Linked DNA regions of Homo sapiens. The protein of the gene in region 1 interacts with the protein of each later gene in a pairwise test. Each region holds a gene or a part of one and is shown on either strand. Other genes may lie near its edges.

What was found.
Region 2: the proteins of LMNA (region 1) and NEBL interact in binary tests that used the Homo sapiens proteins (3 or more experiments, as listed by UniProt).
Region 3: the proteins of LMNA (region 1) and ZNF649 interact in binary tests that used the Homo sapiens proteins (3 or more experiments, as listed by UniProt).

What each region holds. Positions count from the first base shown.
Region 1 is NC_000001.11:156,124,711-156,131,710, forward strand, and holds part of LMNA (lamin), read left to right. Parts: intron 1-1,459; exon of another isoform or gene 1,460-1,493; coding exon of another isoform or gene 1,494-1,513; intron 1,514-1,844; exon of another isoform or gene 1,845-1,941; intron 1,942-2,025; exon of another isoform or gene 2,026-2,092; coding exon of another isoform or gene 2,093-2,205; exon of another isoform or gene 2,206-2,239; intron 2,240-5,116; exon of another isoform or gene 5,117-5,139; coding exon of another isoform or gene 5,140-5,198; intron 5,199-5,906; coding exon 5,907-6,063; intron 6,064-7,000.
Region 2 is NC_000010.11:20,779,473-20,782,362, reverse strand, and holds the end of NEBL (nebulette), read left to right. Parts: 3' UTR 1-2,390; downstream 2,391-2,890. UniProt on the Homo sapiens protein: Binds to actin and plays an important role in the assembly of the Z-disk. May functionally link sarcomeric actin to the desmin intermediate filaments in the heart muscle sarcomeres.
Region 3 is NC_000019.10:51,895,018-51,902,068, forward strand, and holds part of ZNF649 (zinc finger protein 649), read right to left. Parts: intron 5,448-7,051; exon of another isoform or gene 5,278-5,447; 5' UTR 5,091-5,277; coding exon 5,076-5,090; exon of another isoform or gene 4,784-5,075; coding exon of another isoform or gene 4,781-4,783; intron 1,962-4,780; coding exon 1,835-1,961; intron 1,551-1,834; coding exon 1,455-1,550; intron 1,280-1,454; exon of another isoform or gene 1,144-1,279; intron 1-1,143. UniProt on the Homo sapiens protein: Transcriptional repressor. Regulator of transcriptional factor complexes and may suppress SRE and AP-1 transcription activities mediated by growth factor signaling pathways.

The DNA.
Region 1 (7,000 bases):
AGCAGTGGTTACTTTGCCGGGTTGGGGGGGAGGTAGGGGCTATCAAACCTCATGATTGGCCGCACACAAAGGTGTGAGTATGTGTATATTTGAGGGTGGGTGGGAGTGGCACTTTCACTAGGCCTCCGTATCACTCTCTGACTGGGGTATCTCCCAGCAAGCGAGACAGAGGCAGACACGCTTCCCAGACTGTCTTACTGGGTCTCTCTGTGTTATTCTCTGCAGTGTCTGTGTGTATCGTGCCATTTTCTATGTTTTGCACCAATCTGCTGTGAGTGTCCTCAGGTGACCTGGGGGCAGGTTTTTAGTGCCTGAGCCTACCCGTCTCCAGGCTTTAGTTTCCCCCTGTAAAAGTATAGGAGTTGGTTCAAGAGAAGGTTCCTCTAGAAGCCTTGAGCCTGTGAACCGTCTAGTCTCCGGGTATTTGTGGGACACACAGAAAAAGCCCCACGACCCAACAGGTAGAACACTGGCTGAAATCAGCAGGGCAGAGCTGAGACAGGCTCAAGTAGGCTGAGGGGTAGGGAGGTTTTGGGTGAATGGGAGGGAGGGACAGAGAGAAGGAGGATATATTGCAGTAGGAGGAGTTGCTGGAACAAAAGGAGGGGTGGTAGGAGTGGCTTGGGGTGGCAGCAGAAGACGCCCTGTCACATGGCGGGAAGTCAGCCTGGGCAGAGGTCTAGGTGTCCAGGAGGGGCTGGGTGTGGTGGCTCACGCCTGTAATCCCAGGACTTTGGGAGGCTGATGCAGGAGGATCACGTGAGGTCAGGAGTTCAAGACCAGCCTGGCCAACATGGCGAAACCCTATCTCTACTAAAAATGCCAAAAATTAGCTGGGTGTGGTGGCAGGCGCCTGTAATCCCAGCTACTCTGGAGGCTGAGGCACAAGAATTGCTTGAACCTGGGAGGTGGAGGTTGCAGGGAGCCGAGATCGCGCCACTCTACTCTAGCCTGGGCAACACAGTGAGACTCTGTCTCAAAAATAATAATAATAGGGGCTGGGCGCGGTGGCTCATGACTGTAATCCCAGCATTTTGGGAGGTGGAGGCGGGTGGATCACCTGAGGTCAGGAGTCCGAGACCAGCCTGGCCAACATGGCAAAACTCCGTCTCTACTAAAAATAGAAAAATTAGCTAGGCATGGTGGTGCAGGCCTGTAATCCAGCTACTCGGGAGGCTGAGAAGCAGGAGAATCACTTGAACCTGGGAGGTGAAGGTTGCAGTGAGATCACCTGGGCGACAGAATGAGACTCCACCTCAAAATAATAATAATAGTAATAATAATAAATGAAAAATTTTAAAATTAAACAATTAAAAATTTTAAATTAAAATTAAACAAATTAGATGCCCAGGAGGATACAGGAGAGCATTTGCCACCAGGCGGACTCCCTGTACCCACCCGGCCACAGGGGGCGATGTTCCTGGGAGACAGGAAATGCCCAGGGGCTGGGAGACCCTCTGCTCTTCTGCTCCCTTCCTGTGTGCTGCCTGGCAATGGGGAACTCTGAGGGCTGGTGAGCAGGGCTGCTGAGGAGTGGGTCTAAGGAGTCCCTGCAGGGCTGGGCCAGCTCCTCCACCTCCCCTTTGTCTTCCCCTCCCACTTGTTATTTTTAGCTACAGTGTCTGTCCCTCTTGCTTCTCCCCCAGATTGGGAGAGGAAACGGAGGCCTCTCCCTCCGGGCCTAGCCTGTTGCCCCCAGCAACCGGGCCCAAACAGGCCTGTGGCCGGCCCTGGCTTCCATATCTGGCATCAGAGTTGGGCTGAGCAGGGTGACTCAGAGGGTGGGTCAGCGCCTGGCCCGGTGCCCACCTAGCCCCTTTGCTGTGCTGGTGCCTTTCTTCCCCAAACAGCCCCAAGGGCCCGGGCCTGCTGCAGCTGGGGAGCCGGACTTCCTTGTCCCACCAGGCACAGCTCTTCAGACCCCTGCCTTGGGTCACATTTGCAAGTGCCAACTCTCATTTCTACCTTATTCTTTTCCTCTCTGTTCCCCTCCCCACCCCCTCTCTTCCCTCTTTCTGAGATCAGATTTGCCAGTGATGGGAAGAGTTAGAAACAGGATGCCCAGCCCTTCTCGCCTCAAGAGGCCACTGGGATGCAGCCACTCCTGTGCTTGGGGAACCTGGAGGATGCAAGGGAAAGGACTGGCACTCTGCTGGCACAGCACCCGGCCTGGGGCAGGACACGGGCGAAGCCAGGGTCTCCCCTGTGAGCACTAGAGGATTTCCCGACCCCTGCCCGGGTATTGTGTGCCTGAGCATGAGTCACCTGAGGGGCCCAGGTTCCCACCCTTCCCAGCTCCTCTGGCCTGCCCCACCCTGTCCTCCCTGCCAACCCAGCACGGGGACGGCACTCAGCGTGTGCTCAGCTTTCCTGATGCCAACCCCCAGTGGAGTGGGCTGCACCACCACCCTGGGACCGAATGCCTGGCTAGGGTCTACTTTGGTCCCTGCTAGGTCTGAGGACCCCTCCTAGGAAGGAAATGGCACTTGGGGGCGGGGGCAGGGAGGAGGGAGGAGAGACACTGGGCTCTACTGTACCCCTAGTCATCTCTTGGGGTGTGCGTGTGGCTCCCTGGCCACAGAGCTCCCAAGGTCTGAGTCATGAGCCCATGGGTGATAGTGGCTTCTTCCCCGCAGATGGGAGCTCCCCGTGCCTAAGAAAACCACAAAGGTTCTTCCTCACTTCCCTCTCTGCTCGTGGTTTTTCTCATCTGCAGGGTGTGTCTTAGTCCTTTAATCTCCTCTCTTTGCAGTGCTAGTCAAAACCTCCACCAGGGAAAGACAAATAACCCCCTTACTGTTTTTTTTTTTTTTTTTTTTTTTTTTTGAGATGGAGTCTCGCTCTGTCACCCATGCTGTAGTGCAGTGGCACAATCTCGGCTCACTGCAACCTCCGCCTCCCAAGTTCAAGTGATCCTCCTACCTCAGCCTCCTCAGTAGCTGGGACTACAGGTGCACACCACCGTACCCAGCTAAATTTTTTTTTTTTTTTTTTGAGATAGAGTCTCACTCTGTCACCCAGGCTGGAGTACAGTGGTACAATCTCAACTCACTACAATCTCCGCCTCCCAGGCTCAAGCAATTCTCGTGTCTCAGCCTCCCAAGTTGCTGGGACTATGGACGTGCACCACCTTGCCCGACTAATTTTTGTATTTTTGATAGAGTCAGAGTTTCACCATGTTGGCAGGCTGGTCTCGAACTCCTGGCCTCAAGTGATCCACCTGCCTTGGCCTCCCAAAGTGCTGGGATTACAGGTGTGAGCCACCACACTCAGCCAGCCCCCTTACTTTCCTTGGAGACCATATACTGTGGCTTGTGCCAAAGTGGTACAGCATGGATTTCCAGCTCCCCTATCTACTTGCTGCGGGACCCTAGATATAGCTTTCTGTGCCTATTTCCTCAATTGCATAGGAATAGCACCTATCGCATAGGGTAGCTGTGAAGATGACGTGAGTTAACATAATATTTAGAGCAGTGCTTGGTACCTAATAAGCTCTATATAAGTGTTTGCTATTATATTATTATTATCACTGCCACCACCGCTTTTGCAAGCAGCAGAAGGTGAAGAGGTTAGACTGAAGAAAAAACTTCTGTGCTCATCAGCCCATAAGCTCGCAGAGCACAGGGATCATGCATCTATGTTTTCCTCAGTCAGTGTCTGCCAGGCACTGGCAAGGAAAGGCTGTTACCAGGGGGAACTCCAGGAATTCCTCCTGGCACCTAAGGAGGCTGGGGAGACAGGACTAGGGAAAAGGTGCCCTTGAGACACCTTCTGAAATCATCCCATTGCCTTCCAGCTTCTTTCAGCTCAGGCTGGCTGGTCAGGGAAACGCTTTGTGCCATAGTGTCTGCCCTCTTCCTCCTCCTGGCTTCTCCATTCTCTCTGGAACTTGTGGCTTAGGAAAGCAGTGAGGTGGAGGAGGAGGAACCCTAGATCAGCAGCTAGAATTGACTGGAATGCTGCTGCTGGCTTTCGGTAATTGACACTGGGCCATTCACCTTCCTCCTTTGCACCTCAGTTTCCTCATCTATAAAAGGGAGAGGGTTGAGCTGAATCAACTCTAAGCTCCTTCTAGTTCTCTAAATTCTGAGAGCCTCCTAGTACAGCCAGCAGCAGCCATTAGCCTTCAGGGTAGAGAGGCCTCTTCTGGGAAGCCCCAGCCAGCCTGGGGGTCAGCCCAAGGAGCTCGGAATCTAAGTTGCCCCAGTTGCTTCACTTTACCAGCGGTTTTTCTTCATTTTCCCTCCTCCCCCTGCAGCTGCTTCAGCTTCGGAAAAGTTCTGAAGTCATGGAAAGTTGGGGCTGTGCTCCCAGCCAGGGGCTAGGCCGGATGGCAGCCAAAACCTGAGCTGGGTTTTGACTTTATTTTTAGCTTTTCTGACTGAGACAGAGGAGGGAATACATTCTCCGGTTCTGGAAGGGGCTCTTTTTTGCAGGAGACAGACACTTACATTAAACAACTTGTTCTGAGGTGTGGCCAGAGGCCTGGACTGAGCAAGTGTGCAGGCTGGGGGAGCTTCCTCTGGCTTCTCATGTCCTTCCCCTGCCCCTCTGAGTGTCACTCTATCCTCCTCCCTGCCTGGTGGGGGGAGGTGGGGGTGACTCCTTTTTTGGACTCTCCTAAGCAGAACACTGCCTGGGTCTCGTCCTCCAGAGCTTCTGCAAATCTAGCCTTCCCTATCCCTCTTCACAGTGAATTGCTGGGCCTCTTGGAGTTTAGGACTTTTGTGGTAGAAGAAAAATGTTGGCAGGGCTGCTTTTCTCCTTTCCAGGATAGATTTTTCCTTCTGCCCACGCTTGGTTTTCCTTTTTTCCATCTGCTGTGGTGGGCTCATGCTTAAGCACTGATGAGTTACAGATGGCAGCTGGAACCAGGTCCTCTGGATCTTTCCCTCCGCTCCCTGGGTCTGCTGCTTTCTCTCACCCTATATTTGTGAAGCAATTGTAACATCTAGAAAGTTCTTGGGTTCTCTGGAGGTTTTTAAGAAAATAGGACCTTTCTATTTCTCCAGTCCACTAGCAAAAATAATCAGGGGCCCAGAAAAGGTGAGGGAGGTGGCAGAGGCAGCGCTGTTCGACTGGTTATAGCTAAAGCTTTACCCACTTTGAGGAGCAGGGAGGCTTAAAGCTGGGGCCCAGATGGACCTGGAGGCCTGGGATCCACATCTGGAACCAGATGCTGAGGCTATGGTAGATGGGTAGGGCTCAGCCTTCTCCCAGGGCACGGATGAGGCAGGAGGGAGGGAGGCAGGGACCCCTCTGTTCAGTGCAGATCAGGGCACCCAGACTGGGTCCTGAGAAAGGAAAGGGTCAATATTGTGCCTGGTCATCCTTGTCTGAGGTCCCTCTGAGCTCTAACCAGACTTTCCTTCCCCACAGTCCCACATGTGTAAAAGGGACTAGGAGAGGTGACCAGTACCTTTGGGGCTCAGATCGAGAAGTGCTAGGGACATGTGGGCCATGAGCTTAGTTGTCAGGCTCCTCAGAGGGAGGGAAGCTTGGCCAAAGGGAAGTGAGTAGAGTCCAGGGAGAAGGCTAAGTAAGGCCCTGTGTGGGAAGGGGCAGGAGACAAAGGTACCCCTGTCTCTTTGGGAAAGAATGGGAGGAGAGAGAGGGAAAAGCATTCATATCACGGGGTAGAGCTCTGCCCTTGGCCCCAGGCACGTTCCTGAGCCCTGAGTCATGGGAAGGGTGGAGAAGCAGGAAGGGGGTTTTCAAGGACCTTGGGGAGGTGGGAGCCCAGCCCCAGAGGCAAGCAGATGCAAACCAACCTAATGCAAGGATGCCCTCTCCTGGTAATTGCAGGCATAGCAGCGCCAGCCCCCATGGCTGACCTCCTGGGAGCCTGGCACTGTCTAGGCACACAGACTCCTTCTCTTAAATCTACTCTCCCCTCTCTTCTTTAGCAATACCAAGAAGGAGGGTGACCTGATAGCTGCTCAGGCTCGGCTGAAGGACCTGGAGGCTCTGCTGAACTCCAAGGAGGCCGCACTGAGCACTGCTCTCAGTGAGAAGCGCACGCTGGAGGGCGAGCTGCATGATCTGCGGGGCCAGGTGGCCAAGGTGAGGCCACCCTGCAGGGCCCACCCATGGCCCCACCTAACACATGTACACTCACTCTTCTACCTAGGCCCTCCCCCATGTGGTGCCTGGTCTGACCTGTCACCTGATTTCAGAGCCATTCACCTGTCCTAGAGTCATTTTACCCACTGAGGTCACATCTTATCCTAATTTGGCTGCCAATGGGATCTACCACAGTGAATTTAAAATAATCCAGGAGGCCGGGCATGGTGGTTCACGCCTGTAATCCCAGCACTTTAGGAGGCCGAGGTGGGCCGATCACGAGGTCAGGAGATCGAGATCATCCTGACTAACATGGTGAAACCCCGTCTCTACTAAAAATACAAAAAATTAGCCTGGCATGGTGGCGGGCGCCTGTAGTCCCAACTACTCGGGAGGCTGAGGCAGGAGAATGGCGTGAGCCTGCGAGGCAGAGCTTGCAGTGAGCTGAGATCATGCCACTGCACTCCAGCCTGGGCAACAGAGTGAGACTCCGTCTCAAAAAAATAATAATAATAATAATAAAAATAATCCAGGCCATGTGTGGTGGCTCATGCCTGTAATCCCAGCATTTTGGGAGGCCAAGGAGGCAGGATTGCTTGAGTCCAGGAGTTTGAGACCAGCCTGGGCAACACAGACCCCATCTCTAGAAAATAAAAATTTAAAGAAATTAGCTGGGCATGGTGGTGTGCACCTATAGTCCCAGCTACTTGGGAGGCTGAGGCAGGAGGATGGCTTGAACCTGAGAGGTCGAGGATACAGTGAGCTGTGATTGCACCACTGCACTTCAGCCTGGGTGACAGAGGGAAACCCTGTCTCTACATAAATAAATACATAAAATAAAATAATCCACAAGCCATTTCTACTTAACTTTGCAATGAACTGTACCTGACCCTAGATCCCTCCCAGTTTGGCCCTCCGGTATACAAGGGCCTCCTAT
Region 2 (2,890 bases), on another chromosome or scaffold:
ACACATCCCTATAGAAAGTGGATAAAAGATATACCAAAACTGTAATACAGATATATACAAATATAGGTGCCTTTTTGATTACTCTTGTTTGTCTAGTATGCTCTTGGAAAGAAAACCAAGCAAGCAAGTTGCTGCCTATTCTATAGTAATATTTTATTACACATGATTGATATTTTTGTGGTAGGGAAGTGGGATGCTCCTCAGATATTAAAGGTGTTAGCTGATTGTATTTTATCTCTAAAGATTTAGAACTTTAGAAAATGCCGACTTCTTCCATCTATTTCTGAAAGGTTCTTTGTGGATTTATATAGAGTTGAGCTATATAAACATTAACTTTAGATTTGGGATTTAAAATGCCTATTGTAAGATAGAATAATTGTGAGGCTGGATTCACTACACAAGATGAACTTCACTTCATAAATTAATTATACCTTAGCGATTTGCTTCTGATAATCTAAAAGTGGCTAGATTGTGGTTGTTTTGGTTAAGGTGATATGGAGGTGGGAGAGCTTTTAGTTAAGTAAGAAGCTATGTAAACTGACAAGGATGCTAAAATAAAAGTCTCTGAAGTATTCCATGCCTTTTGGACCCTTTCCTCGCAACTAACTGTCAACTGTTGATCAAAAAAGTCAAGGCATTGTATGTTGCTTCTGTGGTTATTATTCTGTGATGCTTAGACTACTTGAACCCATAAACTTGGAAGAATCTTTGAGCAAATTTTCTCAGTTGTCTGTATGACTTCAGTATATTCCTGGGAATGCCATAGGATTTTTTGTGCTTGATACATGGTATCCAGTTTGCATAGTATCACTTCTTTGTAATCCAGTTGCTGTTAAGAATGATGTACTTTAAAGGAAAAGAGAAAACTGCATCACAGTCCCATTCTCCAGTGTCCATGCAATGAATTGCTGAGCATTTAGGAAGCAGCACCAAGTCTATTACAGGCATGGTGTGAAACTTGATGTTTGACCTGTGATCAAAATTGAACCATTGTACAGTTTGGCTTCTGTTTGCTTCAAAATATGTAGAATTGTGGTTGATGATTAATTTGCGAGACTAACTTTGAGAGTGTAACAGTTTTGAAGAAAACATTGAATGTTTTGCAAATGAAGGGGCTTCACGGAATGTTACAATGTTACTAATATAATTTGGCTTTTGTTATGCAAATTGTTAACACCAGCTATTAAAATATATTTTAGTAGAAATGCTTTAATTCATATTTTTTTCCTCTACACTGTGAATCTTTAAGCCTTGGTGGACTAGAGCAACATCGTGCTGCCCAAAGGACTAACCTATGCAAACTAGTTCACATTTTAGTGGATGTCGCAGTTAATGTGTAATAAGACATTATTTCCCCTGCATAATGTACAACAGCATTGAAATGACACATTAAGCCTAGCATCACATTGTATAGTACAGTCACTCACAAACCCTTCAAGGCTACCCTAATCATTAACATTAATATTTGTTTAAAAGCAAATCACCGATTTATCTATTGAAACTACTTAAATGACGGCAAACCAGGAATGACAGATGGCTGTGTCAGCAATGGCTTTAATGTGTTCCCTGCAAGTGGTCTCCTATGATAGAACTGCGTTCTCAAATGCACTCTCTTCAGGGTCTTAATATTCTGTGTTTTCTCTCTGTATTTGTAAAACATTATAACACATTAATTTCCTATCTCTACACATTTGGTTTGCTTAAATAAATGCAGGATATAAAAAAAATGGTTCACTTCTTGGCTCTCACCGTGGTTTCTTGGAGCATGGGTTGTTAGATGCAAGCAATGCACCCTAATAATACCCCGGGTCTGAGATTTAACATGACAACTCACATCAAATCGCATCAGAGGTGTGTGCTGCCTTCAGTGCATTTACATTGGTGAATCAGTCAAGATATTTTCCTCCCCCAAATAAACTTAGTTGTAAGTGATAACAATATTATGCTTCTCCAAGCTCAGTATCTTTCTGATTTTATATCAAAGTACCGCAACAATGCATCATTGTAGTTAATTTATTTCAAGAATAAATTCCTCATATGTCCTCAATAGTACAATTCTAATTTTCTTCTATTCATAAGATGAAAGAAATGGTTTGGAGCATAGAATAGAAAGTGCACAAATTGAGTACATAAAATGGGAAGCAACTGATTTCTCAGCTAAGAAAGGCTCATTTATCACAGAACACAATTGCTTTTCTCCCCCCACTACGCTTCCCATAATTGAAAAAGTGAGTCCCTATTTTTCACACTCATATAAATCTATGCGATTTGGATGCTAGTCTTATTGTATTATTTTGTAAAACTTTCTCTTTGGCTCATAATCCTTCCTAATTGTAAATTGATAAACTTTGCGGATGACATCTGCTCGTAGAATAAACACTTCTTCCAAATATTGGATTTTCTGTTTTTCATATTCCGTAAGTATGAAATGAATATTTTAATAGTATTATGAATCAAGCACACTGTATTTGAAATCACAAGACAGCACAGTTATTTATTTGAAGAATTCACTACCTTTTTTCCCTCTGAGACTTTTTTTTTTTCCATTCGATTATAAATTTACTCTTTGTAACCCAGGCCACAGAGGAAATGAATACCTTAGATTTTTTTTTTTCTGACAAAAAATAATTTAGCTTTTAAACAGACTGTGCTTATAATTTTATTTTCTTAAACATTTGTGAGGTTTTACGGGTAACTATGACATGCGCACCAAACAACTTTTCTACCAAAATAAGTTTCTACAAAAATATATAATAAACTAAAAAGTAGGTAAAAGGGGATTTTTTTTTTTCTTCATATAATCTGCTTTGATATGGTTTGGCTGTGTTCCCACCCAAAATCTCATCTTGAATTGTAATCCCTATAATCTCCATAATCCACACGTGTCAAA
Region 3 (7,051 bases), on another chromosome or scaffold:
CCTTCGATGAAGAAATGCATGAATGACCAAGATGTATTTCAATCTTACATGAAGAAGAATGAAAACCAGGCCCTTGACTCCAGAGTAGCAAAGGAACCTCAAGCACCACCAAATCACACTGATGTGGTATCTATGGGAGTGGCTTGTGTGTGATTGGGATGCAAAGTAGAATGGGAATTTAGACATGGAAGATATTATTATATTGTAGTGTATTAAAAACCATTTCATGAAAAGAAAATTCAAGGTGAAAAATACATAGTGTCAGAATGTGAAAAACAAACCATAATCACATACCGATGCCTCAGTTTTTTTGTTTTTTTGTTTTTCGTTTCTTTTTGTTTTTTGAAACAGAGTCTCACTCTGTCACCCAGGCTGGAGTGAAATGGCGCGATCTCAGCTCACTGCAACCTCTGCCTCCTGGGTTCAAGTAATTCTCCTGCCTCAGCCTCCTGAGTAGCTGGGACTACAGGCACATGTCACCACGCCCGGCTAATTTTTGTATTTTTAGTAGAGATGGGGTTTCACCATGTTGGCAAAGCTGGTCTCAAACTCCTGACTTTGTGATCCGCCCGCCTCAGCCTCCCAAAGTGCTGGGATTACAGGTGTGAGCCACCATGCCCGGCCTCCTATGCCTCAGTTCTTATCTCACTTGATGAATCAGTAACTCTAGACAATGCTTATGGCACTCTTTCTCCCTCTCTCTCTTATATAAATGTATATATACATATAAATATATAAAGTATATATATAAATGTATATACACACATACACACACACATACACATATATACACACACGCATATACATATAAATGCTGTTCTAGCAAATTAATCAAACTTGAGGAGAGGGTCTTGGGAACCCCTACTTTACAGCTGGTTGGTCAGAAGCTGAGGTGACAACCTGGGACTTGCCACTGGCATCTGAAGTGGGACACAGTCTTGGACTGAGCCCTTAACCGGTGGGATCTGATGCCGTATCAGGTAGATAGGGTCAGAGCTGATTTGAAACAGACGATACCCAGCTGATGTCTGCTGGAGAATTGCCTGGGCTGTGAGAAAACAACCCCTATATATCCAGTGGCATAAATGCTGTGTTGAGTGACTATGTGACAGAGAAAAAAACAGTTTGTCGTTTTTGCCTCAGAAACACAAAATGATCCTCTGACAAGTGATGAAGAAGAATGGGAAGATGTGAAAATCCAAGCAAGAAGAACTTAGGGGAAGCAACTCAACATCTAAGAAGAAATGAATAGGGATCAGTTCCAAGAAGAGATAAAGGGGTATGTATGCTTCTCTGAATTCCTATAAGAAAAAGAGCTCTTGTATCCTAGGGGAGAAGAAGATGTGGCAGCTGTTTCTGTCTCCCTAGACACTTTCACAACTGTCATGCCTTCTCTAAATGACCAGAATGTGACTTCCGCTGCCTTCCCCTCTTGCTGGTTCTCTCTCACTTACCTGGGTGGGCTGGACTGTGGATTTCATCTTCTAGTGTCCATAGTGGTTCTCCTTGTTCCAACTTGGTGAGGGCATCAGGTTTGCCGGCTTGATACCCTGTTTGTGGGAAATGGGAGAAGACTTAGGCTCACTGAATTGCACCACGTGGCTCTGATGATAGGAGAAAGGTACATGTTAGGGACTGCATAATTTGCATGTTAGCAAATTAAAGGCTTTTTTTCTAAGACGAAGGAAGATTATGCCTCTTCCTGTGGGACCAGAGACGGGCCTGAGGATCTGCCATTTGGGAGCACAGCAGACATACCAAAGCTTCCAGAAGCTGAGAAAGCAAAGGCCACTGACTGGGTACCCTCTGAGTGACACAGGGCAGCTGTCCTCACCCACTGACACAAGGTTGCTGTAGTTCTCCAACATCACATCCCGGTACAGGTCCTTCTGAGCAGGGCTCAGGAACTGCCACTCCTCCCAGGTGAAGTCCACAGCCACATCCTCCAGGGTCAGTGATTCCTGTAATAACACAGTCCTGCTTAATATGTTTCTCTTTTATTGACATGGAAGAAATATGAAGTTGTTCGGCCCATTTTCACCACATAAGCTGCACCTGCACAGTTGTCCCTTGGTATACTCAATGGAATGGTTTCAGGATGCCCCACATATACCGAAATTGTGCATACTCATGACCTACAGTTGGCCTAGTGGAATCTGCTTATGTTACTCTGTATAAGCGAGTTTCACATCCTGAGAATACTATATTTTTGATTCAAGTTTGGATATAAGTGGACCCTTGCAGTACAAATTCATGTTCACAAATAAACTGTATTCCTAGTTTTTTAAATATACTGTGAAAGAAGCAAAGTCATAGTAAAATATTCTATATTTTATAATAACCATGCAGCCATCCATTAATCCAACAAATCATAAGTTTCTGTAATATGCAGCCATTAAATCCTCTTGCTAACATGAGAATGTCTGCAGTGTTTTTCAGCACCTACTTGCAACCCTAAACTATATGCTACAGTCATATAGTACGTGCAGAATAATCTAGCATGACCCCCTTCATGTAAACTATACCATGATATTTAGCAAAACAACAAATAAACTATGCAGTGGCCATAAAAAATAAGCCATCATACATGTAAGCATTGACATGCATAGATACATGTATATGTATACAACGCATGTATACACACACATACACACGCATGCAGACATAGATGTCCTCACAGGTAAATCCCTAGAACAGGAAGACAAGCATTTGTTAGTGACATACTAGGGAATTAGGAAAAAAAGTATACAGAGGGGGAACTTTGTTTTCACACTATGTGTACTATTTAACTTGAGTCTTTCACATTGAAAATCTATCCATGAGGCCGGGCATGATGTCTCACGCCTGTAAACCCAGCACTTTGGGAGGCAAAGGTGGGCGGATCACCCGAGGTCAGGAGTTTGAGACCAGCCTGGCTAACATGGCTAAACATGGTCTCTACTAAAAATACAAAAATTAGGTGGGCATGGTGGCACCTAGATGAAGCATGAGAATCGCTTGAACCCAGGATGCAGAGGTTGCAGTGAGCGAAGATCACGCCACTGCACTCCAGCCTGGGCAACAAAGTAAGACTGTCTCAAAAAAAAAAAAAAAAAAAACTATGAATCTGTGGTTCTTTCTGACACCAAATACACAGTGTCTTTTCCAGCAACACTTTCTCTGATGCCAACTGGGTATCCTAGAGTTCGATGCTATGCTAACACTAACCGCTGAGGGTTATCATCAGACTCTGCAGGTTTCAGGGCTCGGTCCCACAAGACTGCCCTCACATCATGTGCCACTCTGGGGTCCCCACGTTATCACACTTCTGTCCAACTTGACCACAACTGGAGGTTGCCACAACCTCCCTGCTCAGGTTCGATAATTTGCTAGAATGACTCACAGAACTCAGGAAAATGTCACACAATTACAGTTTATTATATAGGATACAAATGACAGCCAGGTAAAGAGGTACAGAAGTCAAGGTCCAAAGGGTGCCAAGCACAGGAGCCTCTGATCCCATGGAATTGCAGTGCCCCCTTCCCCCACCCCCCACTTCCACATGTGATCTCCAAACCCCATGGGGGTTTTTATGGAGCTTCTACGACGTGGGCATGATTAAATCATCAACCATGGCTGGGTGCGGTGGCTCACACCTGTAATCCCAACACTTTGGGAGGCCGAGGTGGGCAGATCATGAGGTCAAGAGATCGAGACCATCCTGGCCAAGATATTGAAACCCTGTCTCTACTAAAAAAAAAAAAAAATTAGCTGGGTGTGGTGGTTTGTACCTGTGGTTCCAGCTACTCAGGAGGCTGAGGCAGGAGAATTGCTTGAACCCAGAAGGTGGAGGATGCAGTGAGCCGAGGTTGCACCACTGCACTCCAGCCTGGCAACAGAGCAAGACTCCATCTCATTAAAAAATAAAAAATAAAAAAAAGAAATCATCAACCATTGGTCACAGAATCTGGAGGTCGGGGGTGGGACTGAAAGTCCCAACTCTGTAATCAAGGCTTGGTCTTTCTGGCAACCAGCCCCATCCTGAGGTTGTCTAGGAGCCCATTCTGAGCCACCTCATTACCATAAACTCAGGTGTGGTTGAAAGGCACTGGTTATGAAGAACAAAATACACTCCTATCACTCAGGAAATTCCAAAGGTTTTAGGAGCTCTGTGCCAAGAACCAGAGACAGAGACCAAATATATATACGTGTAAAACCATAATGAGTCATTTGCATAATTTTTTAAGTTAAGGCATTAAAAGAGGTGAGAGGTTAATAACTGGATTTGAACACAGGGAAGGGCTCTGTATTTTCTGAGACAACATGACATTCTAAAGCAAACCCTGTGGATCTCAACAACCCAAGCCATTGCCAAAGAGAACTTTCAACTCCCTTTGGTCAAATCTGTACTTAAACACCAGTTTAGTGACCTGTTCATGGAGCTCCTTTGAAAGCAAACCTTGCATTTTTTAGGCAATTAGGTTTACTCACAGATAAACACAGACTGCAACAAGGTTGGGTATATAGGCCGCAGTGCTGTGAGCTCTGGAAAAACTGTGTTCATTAAACCCTTCTTGGTATAGTCCCATAGAGGACTCAGAATAATCATGTAGAAACAGTCACACAAAACTTGCTTGTGTATCTTTTGGAAAAATGCTGTTAAGGACAAAAAGTCTATCTTGTCACCTCTAGCAAAAAGCATCAAACTAATTTCCCAAGATTTAAGTGCCATGAAATACTGACATCCCCTGAGGAACGGACCCGCTTTCTCCTCAGAATCAGTGCACATCATGTAACTTACCATGATTCTCTGGGTGTGATGGTGGCCAAAGATTTTGGACACAAGCTGACACTTAATGTAGCCAACAGGGTCTGGCAGAGTCGCACATTATATTCCAACACTGGTCACATGTGAACTATGTGAACAAAGTATTTGTGATCCCACTTTGTCCTGGATTAAAGGTACAGTCTAAGTCTGTTTCTCCCCAGAGCTCATTTTTTCCAATTTATACTTTTAATGTAAATGAACTGATTTCTTCAGACTTCCACAAATCCATCAGGGAATCGAGTTAAGAATAAAACAAACCAAAAGTTACCTGGGCCTTTGTCATTTTCTTCTGTTTCAGGAAATACCCAAGAACTGGGATGCTTCGTCTTTGGTTTCTTCTGGATCCTCCCTAAATTTTGGCTAAGAAATCTGAGTCTCCATTTAAGAGTGTTCCCAGAAATGATGACATCCACATCCAGGAACCTCCTCCTTCCTTCATTTGAACTCTCTTGCTTCTGGGGAGCCAGGACCTATGGAGTAAAAATCAAGTTCATTTGGTGACACATTCCCTCCGGGCCCAGATGCTGTCTCTGCTGCTGTAAACTCTCCTGCAGTCAAGGCCAAGCAATATATCTAAGCATCCCTTTGTCAGGTGTCCCCAAGTCTTTACATCCCAGGGCAATAAAACAACACTCTGAATGTGGGGAGTCATATGGCAGTGGGCTTAACCAGGAGCCGGCATATCTGGCCACTTTCCAATGCTTCAAAGGAGTGTCTTTCTCCTTAAGCACAGTGTTTATAAATAAGAGAGCAGGTCACGCTCTGGTCATGAGAACGTGATGGTAATAAGGAGGCTTTCCTCCTCAGAGGCCTCCTGTGATTTTCCAAAACTTATTGTCCCATATTTTTATGGCCAGTTTATGCCAGCACCCCATAAGCCTTTTTCCCAACAATCGTGAGACACACAGAGAAGAAACACACAGGTAAAAGAGAAGGCCATGTGAAGATGGAGGCAGAGACTGGAGTGATGCTGCCACAAGCCAAGGACACCTGAGAGTCTGTTAGAAAAGGGGAGACAGGTGAATGAATGTGGGCAGCTGTGCCGGAGCCCCTCAAGACCACTCCCAGATGCAGTGATTCACTAGGTGAACTCACAACACTCAGTCTATAATTATATTCATGGCAACCACTTATTACTGTGAAAACATACACAGCAAAACCAGCAAAGGTAAAAGGTACATGTGGCAAAGTCTGGAGGAAACCAGACATAAGTTTCAAGTTCAGTCTCTTTGGAGTCACACAGGATACACTTAATTCCCCGAGCCACAAGTCATGACAACACACGTGAAATGCTATAGACCAAGGAAGTTTATTAGAGAGAGATTGTGTGCCATGGTTTTTATTGGGGGCTGATCGTGAAGGTGCTCACTGCCTAACATTCACCAAAACTCCAGAATCCTAGAGGAAAGCATGTGTTCAGGATAAATCACATTGTTTGAAAAAAACAGCTTAGGCACAGTGAGCCACTCTTATTAGGAAATAGTGGGACTGCCTCCAAAAATCTAAGCTCCCAAATGCCAGCTGCTATGGTTTGAATGTTTGTGTCCTCCAAAATTCATGTTGAAACTTAATCTCCAATGCAATGGTATCAAGAGGTGGGCTTTTAGTAAGTGATTAGGTCATGAGGGCTCCTCCCTTGTGAGTGGCATTAAGGCCCTTATAAAAGAGGCTTTGGCCAGGCACAGTGGCTCATGCATGTAATCCCAGCACTTTGGGAGGCTGAGGTGGGAGGATCGCTTGAGGCCAGGAGTTTGAGGCTGCAGTGAGTTGTGATTGCACCACTGCACTCTAGCCTGGGCAACAGAGCAAGACCCTGTCTCTTAAAAATAAAAAAATAAAAAAAAATAAAGGCCGAGCGTGTTGGCTCACACCTGTAATCCCAGTACTTTGGGAGGCCAAGGTGGGCAGATCACTTGAGCTCAGGACTTGGCAACATGGTGAAACCCCATCTCTATAAAACATACAAAAATTATTCAAGCATGGTGGCACATGCCTGTATTCCCAGCTACTCAGATGGCTGCGGCAGGAGGACTGCTTGAGCCTGGGAGGTTGAGAGGTTGAGACTGCAGTGAGTTAGGATGGTGCCACTGCACTGCAGGCTGGGTGACAAAGTGAGACTCTGTATCAAAAAAAAAAAAAAAAAAAAACCTAAAGAAAGAAGAAATAATAATAAAAATAAAAGAGGCTTCACACACAGATCGGCCCTTTCTGCTCTTCTGCCTTCTGCCATGTGAGGGCACCGCA